Linked DNA regions of Homo sapiens: all the other regions are linked to region 1. Evidence: fine-mapped expression QTL. A gene starts in region 1. Each other region holds a variant in brackets. All regions are shown on one strand. Distances are between the middles of the regions.

Region 1 (5,357 bases):
TTTAGTAGAGATGAGGTTTCACCATGTTGGCCAGGCTGGTCTTGAACTCCTGGCCTCAAGTGATCTGCCTGCCTCAGCCTCCCAAAGTCTTGGGATTATGGGTGTGAGCCACCACGCCCAGCCTTTTCCCATATGCTTTAAATCATCTCTAGATTACTTATAATACCTAATGCAATGTACATGCTCTGTAAATAGTTGCTATACTGTATTGTTTTTTATTTGTATCATTTTGTATTGTTATTTTTTATTTTTATTTTTCCCAAATATTTTTCCATTTGCAGTTTGCTGAAGCTGTGGATGCAGAACCCATGAATATGGAGGGCCAACTGTATTTTGTAGGCAGTTGAAAACATTGCCCTGGAGCTCAGGAGATGGCTCTGGCTGGAGAATTCATGCCAAGGGCAGCCTATAGATGGAAGCAGAAGGCATGGGTGTAGATGATTTAGCCTATGGATAGTGGGCAGACAAAAGGGAGAAGACATTAAGAACAAAACTCTGCGGAGAAAACTCCAGTTTAAAGGATTAATAGGAGGACTAGGATCTGCAAAGGAGGCTAAGAAGGAATATGTAAGAAGTAGAAAGAAATGCAGGAGAGTGAAGTTATTGATGCTAAAGTAAAAGGGACTCTGGGTGACCAACAGTGTCACAGGCTGGAGGGTGGGCAAATGTTTGCTCTTCGGTCTGGGTTGGCCTGTTCTTTGCCCTTTGGGCTGGTGATAAGAGGGGGCAGGGAAGAAGTGGGAGAGAGACAGGGAGCACCAGGACCTGTTAGTTCTGGAGACTGGTATCCTGGGGACTGCATTCCCTGCTGTGGTGACCATTCCCCTCCTCCCCGCTGCTCTGGCTGGGGAAGGTCACTTTGTTTTGCCCCATGTTGTTAGGAGTCTCCTGTGATGCCTCCTTCCGGCCACCGCCCAGCCAGGGGAAATGTACCTGGCATTTTCGTCCGTCCACGCTCCTGAGGTCCTCCTCAAACTCCACTCCCACATCAAACTGCACAGTGTAGTTTCGGAAGGTGCTGAGCGTCCTCACCGTCATGTGGTTGCCCTGGTGTTCGATCTCCTTGTCCGGCTTCAGCAGCAGCGCGATCTTCCGCACAGCCAAGCTGATGTCTGTGGGGGCTGCCTGTTAGTAGGGGTGCTGCTAGCCAGCCAGGAGCTCCTCTGCCTGCAGCAGCCCCTCAGGGCTGTGAGTTTCCCTTCTTTGGGTCTGGGACTGTGGATTCACCCCCTCCTACCAATGCCTGGTTAGAAATGGATCCCAGGTCTGGTGCCAGCCGCCTGAGCCTTTCCACAGTGTCCAACCCCGGGCATTCCCTCTTCTCCATGGGACCAAGAAGCAGGAAGGAAGAGGGGAGAAAGGGAGTGACAGGGGTCTGGGAGGGCGAGGCCATTACTTAGGGCTTGCAGGTAGTCCTCCATGTTCTTCTGCGAGACAAAGCGGTAGTAGCCAGTGAGGTTGGGAGGCATTGTGTGGATGAAGGTTTCAGGAGAATGCAGGAGACAGGGTGAGGAAGGAGGGGGTGTTGTCTGGCAGGTGAGGCTGAGAGATTCCAGCCAGCTCCACACACAGAGACAGGATGTGTAATGGCCGGGTTACCAGGGCTTTTTATAAGGCTGGGGCCCTGTTGCAATAAGAGTCCCTACCAGACTTCTTCCCTCCCCGCATGGTGAGTTTGGGGGTGGTGTCTCCAGCCTGAAGGAGGGGCAGGGATTTGGCAAAGTTGCGCCTGACCTTGGCTTTTCCTGAGGAAGGAACCTGGAGCAGGATCCTTCCTGAGGAAGGAACCTGGAGCAGGATCTGGGGCTGTCAGTCATCCAAAACTCAGCCATCCAAAGGTCAGTGTTGGCCTCCACCTCATTTCTGGCAGGCTTGGGAACCGTCCCAGGGCCTGAGGGGCAGTCTTTCCTGGGAGACACCTGAGGCTGGTCTGGCTGTGTGAGGTGGAGATGAGTTCCAACAATATCCTGAGATCCTGGGACTGAGTGATGTTGGAAGATGTGAGGGGAGGGGGTGAGGATGGCCAGCTGCCACCATGAAGAGCACCCTGTAGGCCTGGCTCTCAGAGCTCCCTCAGGTAGTGTGCTCAACTGGGACCCCAAAGTGGCATTCCAGACTCTTGGTCCTAAAGAGCCATTAGGAGGGAGGTGGAGCCCGAGGGGTGCTGAGTTCAAAGTCCGGAACAGACAGCCTGAGAGGAGTTTGTTGGCTATTCTGGAGAATTTTATTCTTTTTGGCTTGGGACCCAGGGGGTTTTCTCTCCCTCTGAGTCATCGATGAGACCGTAACCCCCAGTCCCCAGCCCTAGGACAGCCCATGCTTTCCAGATGTATTTCTGTGAAGGTGGGGTGGAGGCGCCTAAATAATATTGTGCCCCGCCCCCAGCTGCCCAATTCTCTCTCGAACCTGCCATCGTCCCGGGCTTCAGAATCCACTGGGCTTGGTTCATCATGGTTTAAGGTGAAATTCGGGGCGAAGGAGGCAGGACAGGTAGGCAGGAGGAGGCGGCCGGTCCCGACAGGTGCGTGCGCGAGGGGTGCACGACGTCCTGCCCCTCCTTGGGTCCCAGAGCCTCGATACCGCCCTGCGGACCGCCCTGTGGCTTCCTCGCAGCCCTGGGCTACAAATGCCAGGATTTCTCAGGCTCAGACTGAGGGTTTTACTTCACCCTTCCCAGAGGGCACGCAGCACGGATCTGTGGATGGAAGGGGCTGTGGAAACAGGTTATGGCAGAGTTGGGGGGCGGGGTGACGCGGTGCCACCCCTCCTGGCCGCCCTCAGGTCCCGCTGACGTCTCTCTTCCCCACCCCCTGGCTTCTGGCTTCTTTCTCCCCACGTCCCTCTTCTTTCCCACCCCCTCCGTGGCTCTCCAGCTTCCTCCCCAGCCCCCGCAGTTCCTCGGCTCCCCCAAAATTGCAGCCAGGGGAAGGAGCCTTGAAACTCTCCAGCCCCGACGCCCCAGTCTCATTGGCTCCCTCCCCCGCTGCAGCACCTGGTCCCCCCCCCTCCCAGTCACCTGATTGGCCGGCGGCCCCATCAATCGTTGCCCGGCTGTGCTGACGTCATCCTGCAGTAGCGGGGTTGGGGTGGGAGTGAGAGAGTGAGGACGCTGGGCTGGGGGAAACGGGAAGCCGCTGCAAGTCCACCGCCTCAGCTACCCAGATTGGGATCTGCCCAGGCCCGCTTTATGGACTAGTGTGGGCGGCAGGCTCCTTTCCGTCCCTGCCCTGCTGTACCCCGCTCCTTGGAGACCCCCTGTATCCCTCCCGCAAGGTGGAATCCGCAGGCTGGAGGCTCCCAGGGGAGGCAAACGCCTGGCCCTGCCCTGCCCCACGCCGCACCATGACCCTCCTGCTGCTGCCCCTTCTGCTGGCCTCTCTGCTCGCGTCCTGCTCCTGTAACAAAGGTGAGTGAGGTGGGGGTGGGGGTACCGAAAGAGGGGCGTCGGGCAGCGCCGTGCGGGGTGGGGGTGGGAAGGAGGTGTCGAGGCTCCCTGGCACCTGACAGGTGTCTGGCCCTCTTCTGATCACCCTCCTTCCCATCCGTTCTCAGACCTGCTCCGTCTCCTCTCTTTCTCTTCCCCCAGCTACATCTTCCTTTCTGGTCCATCTCTACCCATGCGTTTCTCTTGCTGGTCATCTTGCTCCCATTTGGTCTCCATTCCCGTCCTGGGGTCTCTATTCTCCCCTTCCCCTAATTTCTACACGCTGGTGGCTACCTCGGGTCTGGGAAGGACTGCCCCCGAGCCGGTGATAGGCCTCTCCCCGCGGCTCTCCCTTTCACTGGCGCATGCTAAGGGTGTGTGGCAGATCCATCTGCTTCGCCTCCATCCCATCCTGGGGAGAAAGTATTTGCTGCAGTTCAGCAATTCGGAGCACGTATGTTTTTTGCGTGTGCCTCTGCATTCAGACCCTTTTGCCTGCATCAGCTGGGCTGTGGGTTACCAGAGCTGCCCTCTCTGGCAGACAGCGGATACATTCAGCTGGGCGGGGCTGTCGGACAGACGGAGAGGGAGGACGGGAGGGAGGGCTTGCGGGCAGAGGGCTCAGGTAGGTGGAAACGGATGGAGACTGGCAGGAAAGGGCAGAAGTGGGTGTGTGGGGGGCGCTAAATGAGTATGAGAGGGAAAGCTGAGAAGGAGAAGACCGGAGATGAGGCGTGGGAGGGGGTAAGGAGGGGATGGAAAAGGGTAAAGGTGGAGGCAGAAAAAAGAGGGAGGAATGAGGAAAATCAGGAAAAGAGTGAGTCAAGGAGGAGCCCGGGAGCCTAGGAGTGAAAGGGAGCAAACGCAGAGACCGCAGGGGGCCAGGAGGAGAGGAGACAGAGGCTCAGAGACCTGGGAAGACAAGCAGGGTGGGAGGGGGAGCTGTGCAGAGGGCGCCCAGCCCTGCCCTTCCACCGCTCTCTCTTCCTTGCCTGCATCTCTGACCTCAGCCTCGCCTCCTAGCCTCCTGCCACTTCCTGTACCGCCTCCTGTGCACCATCTTGTGGCTTTCTCCTCAGCATTCAGGAAGGGGTTATGGTGGTCATCAGTAAGAAAGCCTTCCCATGCCAAAGGCTTGCTGGTGTGTGGTTGGAGGAAAGAATGGAAATCAGGGTTTCTTGCTCACCGTGAGATACTGGGGATGAGGTTCCTTTTGGTGACTCAGTTTCCCTCTGCCTCATGATTGTGCTTTGGGAGCCTGGGTGTTGGCATGATGATGGGATTAGAGCAAGCGTGGAGGCTGGGGTGGGGGGTGATGTGGAAGGGGAGGAAATATGCTTCCCCACAGCCCCTCACCAGGCTGAATCTGGTAGAAGATGGGGAGATTTGGAGTCTGATGAGTCCCGCATCCATTCTGAATTGGCTGGTGGTTGAAGGGAAGAGGGATGGGGTAGATAAGAACTGGGATTGAGTTCTGTATAAAAAGTGGGTTTCAGGGAATGTGGTTTGATGGTCTTGTGGAGGACATAGAAATGTGTCGGTTTCGAATGTGTTCTCTTGGGTGTGGGGGTGGGAAGCAGGGACGGGATTTGTCATGTTTCTAGGCCAGCCCGATAATCCCTTAGGATGACGGCTCTGCTGGGTCCAGTTGCTCAGCATTGATTCCTCTGCTCCATTCCTGCCCCTCTCTGCCCCCTCCCTCTGTCCTATATATCTTCACTTCTCTCCTTTCTCCCCATCCTGTGTTCTGGGAGAGTGGCCTCAAGTTGGGGCTTGGCTGGGAGAAGTGCAGAGTGAAGGGATCAGGACTGAAATGAGTTGGGAGGAGGATAAGCAATCAGGATCTCAGGAAACTTCTAGATCTTTTTCTAGTTTCAATTCTGCCCTTAATCTATCCCTTCCCTTTCCCAGGGCCTTCTCACAGCCCACCACT
Region 2 (5,357 bases), 130 kb after region 1:
ATACTGAATGGGCAAAAACTGGAAGCATTCCCTTTGAAAACTGGCAGAAGACAGGGATGCCCTCTCTCACCACTCCTATTCAACGTAGTGTTGGAAGTTCTGGCCAGGGCAATTAGGCAGGAGAAGGAAATAAAGGGTATTCAATTAGGAAAAGAGGAAGTCAAATTGTTCCTGTTTGCAGACGACATGATTATATATCTAGAAAACCCCACTGTCTCAGCCCAAAATCTCCTTAAGCTGATAAGCAACTTCAGCAAAGTCTCAGGATACAAAATCAATGTATAAAAATCACAAGCATTCTTATACACCAATAACAGACAAACAGAGAGCCAAATCATGAGTGAACTCCCATTCACAATTGCTTCAAAGAGAATAAAATACCTAGGAATCCAACTTACAAGGGATGTGAAGGACCTCTTCAGGGAGAACTACAAACCACTGCTCAGTGTAATAAAAGAGGATACAAACAAATGGAAGAACATTCCATGCTCATGGGTAGGAAGAATCAATATTGTGAAAATGGCCATACTGCCCAAGGTAATTTATAGATTCAATGCCATCCTCCTCAAGCTACCAATGACTTTCTTCACAGAATTGGAAAAAAATACTTTAAAGTTCATATGGAACCAAAAAAGAGCCCACATCGCCAAGTCAATCCTAAGCCAAAAGAACAAAGCTGGAGGCATCACGCTACCTGACTTCAAACTATACTACAAGGCTACGGTAACCAAAACAGCATGGTACTGGTACCAAAACAGAGATATACATCAATGGAATAGAACAGAGCCCTCAGAAATAACGCTGCATATCTACAACCATCTGATCTTTGACAAACCTGAGAAAAACAAGCAATGGGGAAAGGATTCCCTATTTAATAAATGGTGCTGGAAAAACTGGCTAGCCATATGTAGAAAGCTGAAACTGGATCCCTTCCTTACACCTTATACAAAAATTAATTCAAGATGGATTAAAGACTTAAACGTTAGACCTAAACCCATAAAAACTCTAAAAGAAAACCTAGGCATTACCATTCAGGACATAGGTATGGGCAAGGACTTCATGTCTAAAACACCAAAAGCAATGGCAACTAAAGACAAAATTGACAAATGGGATCTAATTAAATTAAACAGCTTCTGCACAGCAAAAGAAACTACCATCAGAGTGAACATGCAACCTACAAAATGGGAGAAAATTTTCGCAACCTACTCATCTGACAAAGGGCCAATATCCAGAATCTAGAATGAACTCAAACAAATTTACAAGAAAAAAAAAACCCATCAAAAAGTGGGCAAAGGATATGAACAGACACTTCTCAAAAGAGGATATTTATGCAGCCAAAAGACACATGAAAAAATGCTCATCATCACTGGCCATCAGAGAATGCAAATCAAAACCACAATGAGATACCATCTCACACCAGTTAGAATGGCAATCATTAAAAAGTCAGGAAGCAACAGGTGCTGGAGAGAATGTGGAGAAATAGGAACACTTTTACACTGTTGGTGGGACTGTAAACTAGTTCAGCCATTGTGGAAGTCAGTGTGGCGATTCCTCAGGGATCTAGAACTAGAAATACCATTTGACCCAGCCATCCCATTACTGGGTATATTCCCAAAGGACTATAAATCATGCTGCTATAAAGACACATGCACACGTAAGTTTATTGCGGCACTATTCACAATAGCAAAGACTTGCAACCAACCCAAATGTCCAACAACGATAGACTGGATTAAGAAAATGTGGCACATATACACCATGGAATACTATGCAGCCATAAAAAATGATAAGTTCATGTCCTTTGTAGGGACATGGATGAAATTGGAAATCATCATTCTCCGTAAACTATAGCAAGAACAAAAAACCAAACACCGCATATTCTCACTTATAGGTGGGAATTGAACAATGAGATCACATGGACACAGGATGGGGAATATCACACTCTGGGGACTGTGGTGGGGTTGGGGGAACGGGGAGGGATAGCATTGGGAGATATACCTAATGCTAGATGACGAGTTAGTGGGTGCAGCGCACCAGCATGGCACATGTATACGTATGTAACTAACCTGCACCATGTGCACATGTACCCTGAAACTTAAAGTATAATTAAAAAAAAGAAAGAAAAAGGAATATAATCAAGGCAATGGTTAAAAAAAAACCATAGAATCTTTAAAATTCCGAGTCTACCATGATGCTCAGGGTGGGTTGGGGGATGAAAGGGTGGAGGGAGAAAAATTCCTTTTTGAGGAAAACTCTGGTTAGTAAAAGTAGAAAGAATAACAGAATTTGGAAATCAACATTTTGCAATCTCCAATGATTGATTTAGATAAGGATCATAACTGGATGCTATGTCCTCTAGGTGAAAGTTACACTTGCAAAGTGTGGCTGACACCATCTGAACCAAGTGAACAAATTTAACATCATCAATAGTGGGACAATCTGACATCATGTGCCTAGTAAGATGATGCAGTGCGTTATACATGGATTATTTATGAAATGTCCTGCTAGAAGTGTTTATCCTGAATCTAATCGGGCTCCAGCTTAATTTAAAG[T/C]CTGTGAAAGTTTTAAAATATATTACCCATTTCCCTCCAGGAAGATGACCTCAATTTATACTCTCAGCAGCGTAGTAGACTGCCAGTTTCCCTGAACAAGTTAATTGAGACCACAAGGACACAAAAATACACAGGCAGTATGTGAGATATTCATCAAGACAACAACTGATCTGGATTCTTCTCAAGACAATGTCATGGGTAAAAAAAGCAAGAGAATTCTTCTACATTACAGGAGACGTGCTTGAATCCTGGACTTTTAAAAAAGCTATAAAAGACATTTTGGGACCATTGAGGAATTTTTAGTGTGGAATGGTTATAAATGATATTTAGGAATTATGAATGTCTTCGATGGTCATAATATTCTCCTATTATGGCTATATGGGAGAATGTCCTCATGTTTTAAAGATGAATGCTGAAGAATTTAAAAAAGAAAATAATGTCTGCAACTTACTTTCAAATGATTTAGAAAAATCATGTAAATAGGGCAACAAGTGAAAATACCCCAAATTCTTCTGACTCTGAAGGTCCACAAAACATACTTGAAAAACCACTGGGCTAGGCAATGAACAATCTGGATTCCCCAAATGAGTACTTATGATGGTGACTGGGTGGAGGTCCTGGAAACCTGAAATCTATCCATTTGTGTATGTCTCTCCCAGTGCCTCAACACCTGCAGTTCCTTAAGGCAGCTTCATGAATGAACTTGTTCCCACTGGTTCTTTTTCTGACATGTGAAAGCTTTTATAATCTCAGATCCTGTCTCTTTATCTCATAATAAAGAAAGCTCCCCTCAGCATCTATGTCAACACAGACAAAGGGTTCAATCTGCCAAAATGCCTCAGCAAAGTCTGGCTCTTGACTACAACTGGGGTGTGGGATGAGGTGGCTTTTTCCTCTGATTTCACAACCTCTAAAGGAAATGGATTTTTATTGTTTCTTTTTCTTCTGTAAGCTAAAGGAACTAGGGCTCTAGAGTGGCTTCTACCACTAAGTTCCATCCTTCAACACCAACTGACTCAAGAAAAAACAGTGCAATAAGAGACCACAAACAACTTCCTGAAACACGAAAATAAAATGCATATATTTTCACCTGAATATTTAGAACAATAGGACTTAGCATTAGAAGACTGGGTTCAAATCCTGATTCTGCTTTTAACAAGTAGTGGACGGGTTATGGACAACTAATATCCTAAGCCTCAGTTATTTCACCTGAAAATTGGGGTGCTAATGATAATAAATGCTATGGAAATAAGATGAATAATAGCCATGGAAATAAGATGAGTTAATGGCTATGAACGTGCTTTGTAATATGAAAATGCTATAAAATGATCCTAGCTAGTCTAGTTAACTGAATTAATAAATGAATAATCTGAAGGCCAACAAGGACATGACTTGATTGACATTACAAAGCAAATTTATTTATCTGTTCAATACATTCTCTCCTGGGTTAGGACTTACACTAAAATATGGAGGTTAACTAGACTGTCCTCTTACTACATGTAGATGTATTTGTAGAGATCCATATAGATACATAAGAAATACAGCTGTCTCGCCAAATTTACTGAGTCATCCCAGCACCATACTAAGAGTTTGGGTATATTACTTCACTGAAGCTTATGACTGTCCTATGAGAAAAGTCCTATTATTATCCCCATCATATGAATAAGAACAGTGAGGATACAAAAGGAGAGATTATAAATGCCTGAAAAATATCAGTGAGAATGTAGGAGAAGAAATGGACTTTAGATTGAGCAGGTTGAATACACAGAACATAGAAAACCAATGGGATATAAGGATTAAGGAAAAAAGAGATGACAAGAAACCATGTTGCTATAATTGAGCAAATATTAATGCTATACAGAGGGAAGAACAGGTTGGTGGGGAAAATTTCCATTCATTTAACCAATATTAACTGAGCACTTAATATGTGTCTGACAATATTATAAGCTCTAGGGATATAGCAATAAAAAATATTGGTAAGAGTTCCTATTTTCCTGAACTTATATTCTGGGAACAGGGGAATATGTTCAAGAATTGTTATGTTCTTGATTTTTTGAGGCGCTCATTGAACATTTGGGTGAAGATGTCCAGGAAATACCAGGAAATAGTTGGAGAAATGGGTTTAATTCTCAAAAGAGTTGTTTAAATGAGAGATGAACTTGGGAAATCTTCAGTGTATAAATGGTGATTGAATTTATGAACATGAATGAGGTCACTCAGGCACAGAATATAGTTCCAGAAGAACAGCAGGCTAAAGGTGAAGCCCTTGCAATGCCAATATTTAAGAAGAAGAGTCCAAGAAAGAGATGAAGCAGGAACAGTTAGACAGGTAAAAGGAATGGCAGAAGAGAATGATATGATAAAAACCAAGGAAAGAGAAAGTTATAAGAAGGAATGGTTAGTAGTTTCAAATGCTGTTAAGAGATCAATATGTATAATGAACAACTGAATGTGGCACCCAGAGGGTCCCTATGATTATGGCAAAGGCAGCTTCAGGAGAGAAGTTGGGGCAGGAGGCCAATGTAGTATGTGGAGGGGTGTCTAGAAGAAAAGTCTGTAAAAGCCTCAATTAAAGTGAACTTTTCTGTTGAGAACTTAACCTGCCAGCATGGGCAACATAGCGATACATCATCTTTACAAAAAATAAAAAATTAGCCAGGCATGGTGACACGCACCTGTGTTCCAGCTACTCTGGAGGCCAAGGCAGTAGGATTGTTTGAGCTCCGGAGTTTAATGCTAAAGTGAGCTGTGATCGGGCTACTGCACTCCAGCCTAGGTGACAGAGAAAGACCCTATCTCAAACAAACA
Region 3 (5,344 bases), 59 kb before region 1:
GGGAAAGGACTGAACAGTGACCTGCCAGAGTCCAGCTCAGTGAGGTGGCAGTATCACTGTGCCGTGGGCTGCCAGGGCCGTGGGGAACCTCCTCAGCCGCACTGAAGCCAGGCCAACTGGAAGGAAATAGAAACGTCAGCCAGCGACAGTTGGTGTCTGGTAATGTAGCTGCAGTGAGAAGATACAGAACTGCTAAAAACAGGGCCTGAAAGCTGAGAGTGTGTGAGTAATCAACACTCAGAAACAAGTCTAGCTAAATAGCCTAGTTATTATATTAAAAGTTTATAGGGCAGCAAGATATAGAGGAATTCAAAGAATGAGGAAGATAAGAGTTGGGTAGCAGAAGGCTGAGGCAAATCCAATAGGATAATAACCATCCTGGGTGGTACTGAAAGCTGAAGACTGAGCTGATTTGTTGCATTTATTATCTCATTCGTGTCCGTATAACAGCCCTGTGAGCTAGGTGTCATTGGTCTTATCTGACCAATGTCAAATGTGAATGGGTGGGGTGCAAGTTCACAGAGTTAGCAAGTGGCAAAGGCAGGCTTTGAGCCCAGGTCTGTCTAAGTTCACAGCCCATTGTGCTCAACTTGGAGTCCCTCCAGGCTGTCTAGTAAGGGATTTAAGTAAGCAGCTTCACTTGAATTCAGTTATTAGTATAACTGAATGGTAATGGCACCAGTCACTGGGAGTGAGAGGTCAGGGCCAAAGAAGGGACCCCTCTCTACTTCCTAGGCTGACCTGTGGTTTACTAGGAGGGACTCAGGTGCAACTAGGACTCCAGTAAAGAAGGTGATTAAAGTTTGATCTGGGCATCTGAAGAAGGCAGAAATCTTTCCTCCTCCACCATCTGTGTGAGAAAAGGGTTTCCAGCACTGGCTCTTGATTGGGCACCGGCCTCATGTGCCGAGTTGGGAGGTGCAAAGGGGACCCCTGCCTCCAGGGGGGCTGTGGGTCGCACTGTGGATAGTGTGAGGCATTAGTGCATCTGGACTCAGTGATTCACACACTGCCTCCGTTTAACTGAGCTCTCCCATGAGCCAGCTTATGACATCGGCAAAGCGGGATGTTTAGGTAAGGCCAGAGTGGGTCAGGTATTGAGATTGTTGACCAAATAGGGTTGACTATTTTGTACTAGAGAATCCTGCAACCTAGCAGGTAACATTATGTGAGTGGTTGGAGGATTTGCAGGAAGCCAGCATCATTTCTTCCTCCTTCCCTGTGTTGTTTTATTCCTTCCTAGTCTGTGGAGTCCCCAGAGAACCCTTTGAAGAAAAACAGAGGATAATTGGAGGATCCGATGCAGATATTAAAAACTTCCCCTGGCAAGTCTTCTTTGACAACCCATGGGCTGGTGGAGCGCTCATTAATGAGTACTGGGTGCTGACGGCTGCTCATGTTGTGGAGGGAAACAGGGAGCCAACAATGTATGTTGGGTCCACCTCAGTGCAGACCTCACGGCTGGCAAAATCCAAGATGCTCACTCCTGAGCATGTGTTTATTCATCCGGGATGGAAGCTGCTGGAAGTCCCAGAAGGACGAACCAATTTTGATAATGACATTGCACTGGTGCGGCTGAAAGACCCAGTGAAAATGGGACCCACCGTCTCTCCCATCTGCCTACCAGGCACCTCTTCCGACTACAACCTCATGGATGGGGACCTGGGACTGATCTCAGGCTGGGGCCGAACAGAGAAGAGAGATCGTGCTGTTCGCCTCAAGGCGGCAAGGTTACCTGTAGCTCCTTTAAGAAAATGCAAAGAAGTGAAAGTGGAGAAACCCACAGCAGATGCAGAGGCCTATGTTTTCACTCCTAACATGATCTGTGCTGGAGGAGAGAAGGGCATGGATAGCTGTAAAGGGGACAGTGGTGGGGCCTTTGCTGTACAGGATCCCAATGACAAGACCAAATTCTACGCAGCTGGCCTGGTGTCCTGGGGGCCCCAGTGTGGGACCTATGGGCTCTACACACGGGTAAAGAACTATGTTGACTGGATAATGAAGACTATGCAGGAAAATAGCACCCCCCGTGAGGACTAATCCAGATACATCCCACCAGCCTCTCCAAGGGTGGTGACCAATGCATTACCTTCTGTTCCTTATGATATTCTCATTATTTCATCATGACTGAAAGAAGACACGAGCGAATGATTTAAATAGAACTTGATTGTTGAGACGCCTTGCTAGAGGTAGAGTTTGATCATAGAATTGTGCTGGTCATACATTTGTGGTCTGACTCCTTGGGGTCCTTTCCCCGGAGTACCTATTGTAGATAACACTATGGGTGGGGCACTCCTTTCTTGCACTATTCCACAGGGATACCTTAATTCTTTGTTTCCTCTTTACCTGTTCAAAATTCCATTTACTTGATCATTCTCAGTATCCACTGTCTATGTACAATAAAGGATGTTTATAAGCAAATTTTGTGTGACTTACCTCATTCCACACCAAACCCTCAGAATTATAGAAGGGGAATGGGATGAGAAGGCTGTTATGTCACTGAAATTGGGCATCCAGCAACTAATATTTAATTTAATTGTCACGAAAACAGGGAATTCAGCTTTTCTTCTCTCTTCCAAATGAGATTTACTGAATATTGTGGGTTAGTATGAAGATCGCCAGTGTAAGGCATCACATTCTGCTTTTGAAACTCATTAATATTTACCTGGCCAAAAAAAAAAAAAAAAAAAAAAGAAGAAAAGAAAAATAAGAAAAAAAAGAAGCTCATTAAATGTCATGTGGTGCGTGGCTCACACCTGTGATCCCAACACTTTGGGAGGCA[G/A]GGGTGGGAGGATTGCTTGAGCCCAGGGATTCAAGACCAGTGTGAGCAACATAGGGAGACCCTGTCTCTACAAAAATAAAAAATAAAAATTAGCTAGGCATGATGGTGCGTGCCTTAGTCCCAGCTACTCAGGAGGCTGAGTTGGGAGGATCGCTTGAGCCCAGGAGGTCAAGGTTGCAGTGATCATGCCACTGTACTCCAGCCTGGGCAACCAGAGTGAGACATTATCTGGAACAAAGCAAAATAAAAAAACCCCACCTCATTCAGAAATCCATGTACAATAGTTTGAGTTGGCTGTTTAAGATCTTCTTTAAGTAGAAATTGTTTCAATATGTGAACGGAAAGTTAATTTTCCTCTAATACTCATTGTATCATGCAATATTATGACAACAAAAAAGAAAAACTAAAGAAATTGAGCATGCTCTTGTCTGCTTTCCTGGTGGTTTTAATCAATTTGTGACAATGTTTTCATTAGACTGAACTCTGTACCAAGATGACATAGCAGAAAATCTCGGTAAGGATGGACCCCAAAACTCTCCCTTCTATTTTCTAGGGGAAGGAAAAGAAAAGATTCCTCTTCCAAAAGAATGATTAGTGATGAGAAATGACTACAGAATAGAGACTTAGCATTTTAAAAACTGAGGACAGGACAACTATCTTAGGACAGCGGTTGCCCTAACAGGGCGTCTTAGGAAAGCGGAGGTCTGAGAGGAAGAGCTGAGGGGGAATCTGACCTATTTGATGTGACACGTGGCTTTCAGGAGGGCAGTTTTTACTAGAAGCCAAAAAAGGTTGGTTTGGGCCCATCAAGAATGGACTTTGATATTCCATAGACCAAGAGGGCTAAATTCAACAGTTGACCTTAGACCGCAGGGTAAACGTGATGAGGTAACCAGAGGAACTCTAATTGAAGGGCCTGAAGAATTGAAGGGAATTACAACAGGGAGTCCCTGGGAGGATTATATGGTCAACCAAGCAGCATAAAGTCACTGTGTCACTCCTGAACTGTATGCCTCATAGCCACCTCCTCACCCTTCCTGTCATTGCAGGAGCAATGGAGTTGACAGTGTGCCCTGGGTGAGAGTGTTTCCGTGAGAGGAGGATTCTTCTAGAGATAAAAAGGCATTGGAGGAATATTAAGATTTAGAAACATGGTCTGTGAAAGGGATATTGTTCTTCTTTTTTTATACTTGGGGCAATAGCAAAAAATTAACCTGGAATCTGACAAGTAACAGAAAAAGGAAGTTCATCCCTCTCGGAGAATCACCAGTCTATTTGGGTTCTGCCCTTGCTGATGGGCTGAGGTATTGGTGAAGAATTTCCCTCTTTGCTGCCACCTTGTACGGCATGACGGGAATGGGCTTTGCATCGTTGACTGTGCTGCAAGGTCATTTCTCTGGGTGAATGGCAGGGAGAAGACCTAAATGAATCATGATCAGAGACTTCAGAGCTGGGAAGAGCTTGTCATCAGGTCCTAGAGGGGCTAGAAAGTCATTCATTGTGTTTAAAGGGTATCCATCGTAGTACCTTGCAAGTTACTTGGGAACATATGTCCGCTTCATCTGAAACTCAGGAAAAGAGTTAGCTTTTTGAAGAAGGTGAATTGTCACTTTTCTTTGGTCAGAAGAAAATGGACTGGTGGGTCAGCAACTCATGCCAGGGAGGAAAGACAATGTCCGGTGGTCAAGAGGGCTTGAACCTACTTGAAACTGGACCAGCCCAGAAGGGGCTAGAAGGGATCCTGGGACTCTAAAGTTTCCTTTACAGTGACTGCTAGAATCAGAAACATATTCAGTGGAAATGTGACTTTTTTCCTGCATATTGGTTATTATTTTAAAAATTGAAAATATGATGTGAGGCGTGGTGACTCACACCTGTAATCCCAGCACTTTGGGAGGCCAGGGAGGATGGATCACATGAGGTCAGGAGTTTGAGAGCAGCCTGACCAACACAGTGAAACCTTGTCTCTACTAAAAATACAAAAATTAGCCAGGTGTGGTGGCAGGTGCTTGTAATCCCAGCTACTCGGGAGGCTGAGGCAGGAGAATCGCTTGAACCTGGTATTGCAGTGAGCCGAGATGGCACCACTGCATTCCAGCCTGGGCAGCAGAGTGAGATTCCGTCTCACACACACACACACACACACACACACACACACACACACACACACGGACACAACACAGCTTTATTTAATCTTGATCAGATCCACAAACTCTGCCATGGTTTTTAAAATAATGATTTAACAAAACCCTTTTTCTTTTGACATATTCACAAGAAGTTGCAAAGTTAGTACAGAGAGGCGCTATTTCCCCTAATGGCTACATCTTAGGTAACTACAGTACAATATCTAAACCAGGAAACTCATGTTGGTACAATGTGCAAGGGCAGTTTTGTGTTATTTTACTACATTGGAGACTCATGTGAGCACCTCTGCAGTCAAGATACGAAACAATTCCATCACTACCAAGATTTCCCTCTTGCTACGTTTTGTACTCACATCCTTTTTTATTTTCTCTTACAATCATAAAAAGACACATTGGAAAGATCCAGCTTCTCTCATTT
Region 4 (5,329 bases), 40 kb before region 1:
AGGGTTGTAATAGGAGCAAAGAGGTTGGTAGTCTCCATTCTTCTGGACCCAGGACACCCACCCAATCCTCCTGATGGAGCTGGAAGCACCTTGGAGTAAAGAACAATGCATCAGGTGAACTCGACTTGATGCAACATTCAAATGTGAGCTCCACAAAGGCTGTGTGACTATGTGGGTTTCTTTTTACTGAACCTCCCACATCTAGGACAGTGCCTGACAGTAGACACTTAAAGTGTGCATTAAATGAATTAACTGTGACTTAAGGACATATCCTAGGTCTCTTCTTTGATTCTGATTAAGTGTTCCATGTGGACCTGTTGAACAACGATGGGATGTCCAGTCTTGGGTCTCTGTCCAGAGACAGAGATTTTTAGTTTACCAGCTTTTGTGAGATTGATCAATGGATAAAACCATATTCCCTCCTGAATCTGCAGAGCCGAGGACAGGACGGTGGGCGCAGGGGGAGACCACCAACATGTGTAAAAGAGCCCCGGAGCAGGAGGCAGGAGATTGGCGTCCTAGTCCCTGCCGTACACAATCGCTACGTGATGTTGACGAGTCACTACATCTCCACCCTGCCTTTTCAGTTCCTTCAGCTCTCTTGAGTTATTGGACTAGGGCAATAGTTCTTAAACTTGGCTGTGCATTAGAATCACCTGGGTAGCTTTAAATAGTCTTGATGTTCAGGCTCTACTCTAGATCAATGGAATCAGAGTCTCTGTTGGGGGCCCTCATCTTCAGTATTTATTTGCTTATTTTTATTTTTCAGAGACAGAGTCTTGCTATATTGCTCAGGCTGGAGTGCAGTGGCTATTCACAGGGGCCTTGAATGAATGGGCTCAAGCAATCTTCCAGGATTTTAAACTCTCTGTTTTAAGTGTGCAGCAAGTTTGAGAGCTGGTGGACCAGGAGACTCTTCCAGCTGAAACGTCTACGACTCCAGCTGGGGTGAGACTAAATCCTCTGTGAACCCACCACCTGAATTCCTCCTGGGGTGCTGGGCCGGCTCTCTCCCCTCAGCCCTGGGCTCTTACCTCTATGAGCTGGTAGCCTTGCTTGCAGGTAGCAATGAAGTAGTCACGGAACTGGTACTGAGGCTGCAGGTTCTGGATGATGGTGAACTCGTCTAGGGTCTTGGGCTGGGGGCACTTGATGACTGTTGGGGAGACCAGGGGGCATATTTATTTCAGAGCCACTTGTCCTTCCTTCTTCCCCCCTTTTCCCCATTGCTGGCCATCGAGGGAGGCCTGCAGGGAGCCTTACTCTCGGTGGTGTAGCGCAGCTTCCAGCCCCGGCTGTCCCCCGACTCATCTGTGAAGAACAGCAGATCCACAGCATTGCTGCTGGTGTCGAGGTCGGGGGGCCTTTGCTTCCCACAGAACTCGCCAATGTTCTTCCCGTTGGCATAGATCTAGTAGGGGAGGAGGGTTTTTTTTTTTCAGCTTGGACGTTTTTACACAGGGCCAACTGGGTAGTAGCCTGGTGGCCAGGGTGGTGGTGGTGGTGATGAAATCCTGCCTTATGTGTGTTTTCAGGGGAAGGTGAAAAGGGATCCCCATGACCCAATTCTAGTTGTGTGGGAACTTACCCAGCCCATGGGTGATGTTGGCCGTTCCTGCCCCAGCTGGCCAGGGGATCCAGGAGGAAGTTGGGACAAGAGGAGCCAAGTGCAGACAGAAGGGGAGGAAGGGGTCTTTCAGGGGTAGGACGGCTGTACCTGTAGCTGGTCATAGGGGCAGTGTACTTGCTGGTGGTCATCAATATCAAAAGGCTCCAGGAACTTGAGGTGCAGGGTGAGGCCCCGCTCCACCCGGATGCTGTAGTTGCAGCGCAGGTCAGGGGGGTAGGACCGAGGGTACTCCAGGCTGGAGATGTAGCCTGATGCCTCCGTGTACAGCTCGCTGCTGCACTCAGCTGTGAGAGCAGAGCCACAGGGCATTACGGGGGACTCCAGCTGGCCCAGCAAGCCCTGGCTCAACCCCTTCCCCTCTGCTACACCACTCTGGCTCACCCTGGCAGGAATGCCTGTCTTCCTGAAGCTCATAGCCTGGACGGCAGGAACAGAAGTAGCCTCCAACGTAGTTGTGACACAGGTGCTGGCACTGGGGCTGGGGATCCTCCTCCCCT[G/A]ATTTGCTCCGGGAAGCACATTCATCAAGGTCTGGAAGGCATTCAGGAAGGAGGGTTAAGCTTCTGCTGGGAGACCTGAGTAGTGGCTCTGATCTTAGGGAGGTCACTCACCAGAGACCTAAAGACAAAGGCATCTTTAGGCCACCTGGACCTCCAGGCCTCTCCAATGCTCTCTGGGGACTGCTCCATGGGGACAGAGCCCAGGTTGACAGGCCTCGTTAGGAAAAGCTCTCTCGAGGGGAGGAACAAGGAAAGCCAGGCTTTCGGCTTCTTTGCATTCAAGATTCCCTTTCTTGGCCCCCCATTCAATATGGCTGAGGTCAGAGAAAAGGGATCCCTGGGGGGCTACTCACCCACAGCTTGGTAGTAGGCCAGGAAGCCCTTGTAGAACATGATGGTCCCATTCTCCTCGTTGGAGAAGTCTGTGTGGAAGGTCAGCAGCATCTTGTTCCCTTGGGACATAAATTCCTTCTTTCCCGGGGGGTTGCCCAGTGGAGAACCCAGTTGCCCACAGAACCTCCCCAGGCTTTTCTTATCAGCAGAGATCTGGTGGAAGAAGGACAGGGGGTAGGAAGAAGATCTGTTGCGGAGTGGCGCACGTGGTGGCTCAGTGATGGTCCTCCTTGTCTCGCCCAGAGTGCATCATGCACCACAATGGCTCTGGCTGGTCACTACCTGCTGGGCTCAGCTGCTGCAAACTTCCCCATGTGACTTTCAGCTGTTCCCTGAGTCTCCCACTGACTCACTCTTTGCGTGTTGTCCTGGACTGGGTACCTCACCCTTTCCCTGTTTTCTGCTCCTCTGGCAGGTTTCAGGTCCTTCTCCATCCCCACCACCTCCTATGGCCTGTTCCCCTGGGGTCCTGGTTGTCTGTACCCAGCCTTTACCTGCCCCTCATTCCCAGAGCTCAGACAGCTCCGCTTTATTTTCTGTCTTCAGATTCCACCTCAGCCTAATCAAACCATTCACACCTCGAGTGCCTCCTGATGCCCTCGGCGGAACATGAGCCCTGAAGCCCACCCATCTCAGTGTCAGCAGGCACTGCCTCGTCCCTCTTCCTTCCTCCTCACAGCCTCCTCAACCTCTCCTTGACTCTGCCAGCAAACGCCCTCCCCCAACACTGCACACTCGCCAAGTCTTCTGAGCCGGTAAGACGTGCCATTGTCATGTAATTCACGCATAATCTCCAGGGGTCTCCTGGGAATGGTAGTTGTTGGACCTTCGCAGGCTCTGCTTGAGCCCTGAATCTCATTTTTACTGGATAGAGAAAGACAGGCCTGGGAAGGTACCCTTGGTTGCCACAGAGGTGAGGGTTCTGAGCACACTGTCCTTGCTGAAGGCTATTCCTGTGCTGCCAGAGCCCACATTTCTCCTCCTCATGTCCCTGTGTTCCTGTTGAAGCAGGCAGCCATGTCAATCATTTCCTTGGAGACAGGGAAGCTGAGGCACAGTGGTTTCCCAAAGACTCTCAGCTAGACAGCAGATGGGGAAGGTTTTCCTGACTCAGTGGATGTTGAATTTCCTGAGTGGGTCCTGTCCCCTTCCTTCTCTGTGCTTCTCCCCTCAGTGCTCACCGAGGGCCTCTACACCAGTGAGCGCCCATCCAGGGCATCCCCGGGCTCTCAGAGAGGCCGTTGGCCATCAGCTCTTGTGGGGCTGGGCTGTGTCTGGGGGTGTGCATGCCATACAGATCCCAGATCCCAGAGGGCCCAGTTTTGTCTCCCCTCTGCCCGCCCATCCTGCCCCTACCTTGACATAATCATAGAAGCAGCCTTCAGAAGGCTCCAGGTCAAACTGCTGGAAGACGAGCTTCACCCTGTATCCCGTGGGGACTGTGATCACAGTGGTTGTTTCAAAGTTGTTGGGGTAAGGCTTGGGGAACAGAGGGGAAGTCACCTCCCCAAATAACTTCTGAGGGATGGGAATGGAGCCTCCTGCCCTGCAGAACAGGGCCGGCACCAGGAGGTACAAGAGCCACCTGCCAAAACAAAAGAGAGTATCTGGAGCTGGAGGGGTTCAGCACTCTTGCCATGTGGGCAGTGGCTGTGGCAGGGGATGAGACGGCCATACCACTGGGCATTCTCCTCTCTGCCCACCCTGAACCTCACAGACATGTTCTCAGCAGGGGTGCGTGGGTGGGGAGGATGGCCTGTGCAGCTGCTGCATCGGGTCACTCTCCAGGGCAGTGTCCAGTCCAGAGGCCACCACACTCCCCTCACACTCCCTTTCCAGCCTCCTCCCCTGCCCGGACGCGTCCCTCCCCTCCCCTTCCAGGAATAGGACTGGCTTGGGACCAGTTAATGGAGGGTGAGGGTTTCCACCCGTGGGTCTCTGAAAGGGCTCCCACAGGTTCAGCAAGAGCGTCTGGGAGAAACCATCTGTGGAGTGGGGGACACAGGCACAGAGTGTCCCGTCCTGGGCAAGGGGTCCCCTCCTCTCGCTGCTCCCTGCCAAGAGCCCAGAGGGAAGAAAGGACCATGGCATGAGCATCTATGTATGAAGTCTCCTCTGATCCCTAGGAGGAGGGATGGGGCGTGTGTTGTGTGTGTCCACGCGTGTGCACAGTGGAACTGATGAGGTGTGTGAAGAGAGAAGGGTGTTCCTGTCTCCCTGAATTGCCTCCCATGCCCTGGCTTCTCCCCTGGCTTCTCCCTCCCACCTGGTTGCCCATCACCCTTACTCACATTTCTCAAGGCCCGTGTTGAATCCTGGGCTCTCCCGACAGCGTCTTCGTGCACTGTGTGCAGAGGGAGCCCGCGTCATGCACAGCAGGGAGGGGAGGGTTTTCTGTGGAGTGGAGGGGGGACCATTCCCGGAGGAATGTTGGAGGGAATGAACTATTTGCATAAACAAAAGATCTGAGTTTCCACTTTAATTTAGTTTTGGTTTTGAAATCCCTGTTTGTGGTGCCACCTGCTGGTCGGTGAGGGAAAGGGCTAAGGAGACGGGAGTCTGGCTTTTTAGGGCCCGGGGAGCCTTGGGTTGGAGGCCCAGATGTCTCAGTCTCTAAATCTGATCAGCTTCTCCCTTCTTCCAAGACTTTCCTGGGGGCTGCTGCTGTGTTTACAAGGTTCCTACCAAAGCAGTGGGAGACCACAGGTGGTGGTGAATTCTCTTTTCTGGGCTGTCCTTTCCCATTGACCCTGTTCTTCCTGCCCTCATTCAGCCCACAGCCCTGGTCCAAGAATGGCCCGGGTTTCAA

What was found.
Region 2: its variant is fine-mapped to the expression of CLSTN3 in whole blood (TOPMed, PIP above 0.99).
Region 3: its variant is fine-mapped to the expression of CLSTN3 in whole blood (INTERVAL, PIP above 0.99).
Region 4: its variant is fine-mapped to the expression of CLSTN3 in whole blood (TOPMed, PIP above 0.99).

What each region holds. Positions count from the first base shown.
Region 1 is chr12:7,127,307-7,132,663 of GRCh38, forward strand. It overlaps CLSTN3 (calsyntenin 3), which reads left to right and starts at 3,065. Exons shown (of 18, transcript NM_014718.4): 1 at 3,065-3,406. The coding sequence starts at 3,343. RBP5 (retinol binding protein 5) reads right to left here and starts at 1,583. Exons shown (of 4, transcript NM_031491.4): 1 at 1,397-1,583; 2 at 934-1,112. The coding sequence starts at 1,469. RefSeq lists silencers at 2,822-2,921, 4,012-4,081 and an enhancer at 3,363-3,864.
Region 2 is chr12:7,255,147-7,260,503 of GRCh38, forward strand. No RefSeq gene overlaps it. Among named protein-coding and RNA genes, the nearest start is that of ACSM4, 46 kb to the right of the region's middle. RefSeq lists a silencer at 3,964-4,164. The variant T/C (reference allele first, on the strand shown) is at 2,550.
Region 3 is chr12:7,068,612-7,073,955 of GRCh38, forward strand. It overlaps C1S (complement C1s), which reads left to right. Exons shown (of 12, transcript NM_001734.5): 12 at 1,244-2,421. The coding sequence ends at 2,040. Among named protein-coding and RNA genes, the nearest start is that of C1S, 11 kb to the left of the region's middle. The variant G/A (reference allele first, on the strand shown) is at 2,783.
Region 4 is chr12:7,087,576-7,092,904 of GRCh38, forward strand. C1R (complement C1r) reads right to left here and starts at 4,870. Exons shown (of 11, transcript NM_001733.7): 1 at 4,812-4,870; 2 at 3,877-4,105; 3 at 2,481-2,673; 4 at 2,012-2,158; 5 at 1,718-1,914; 6 at 1,264-1,411; 7 at 1,035-1,156. The coding sequence starts at 4,813. RefSeq lists an enhancer at 4,918-5,212. The variant G/A (reference allele first, on the strand shown) is at 2,128.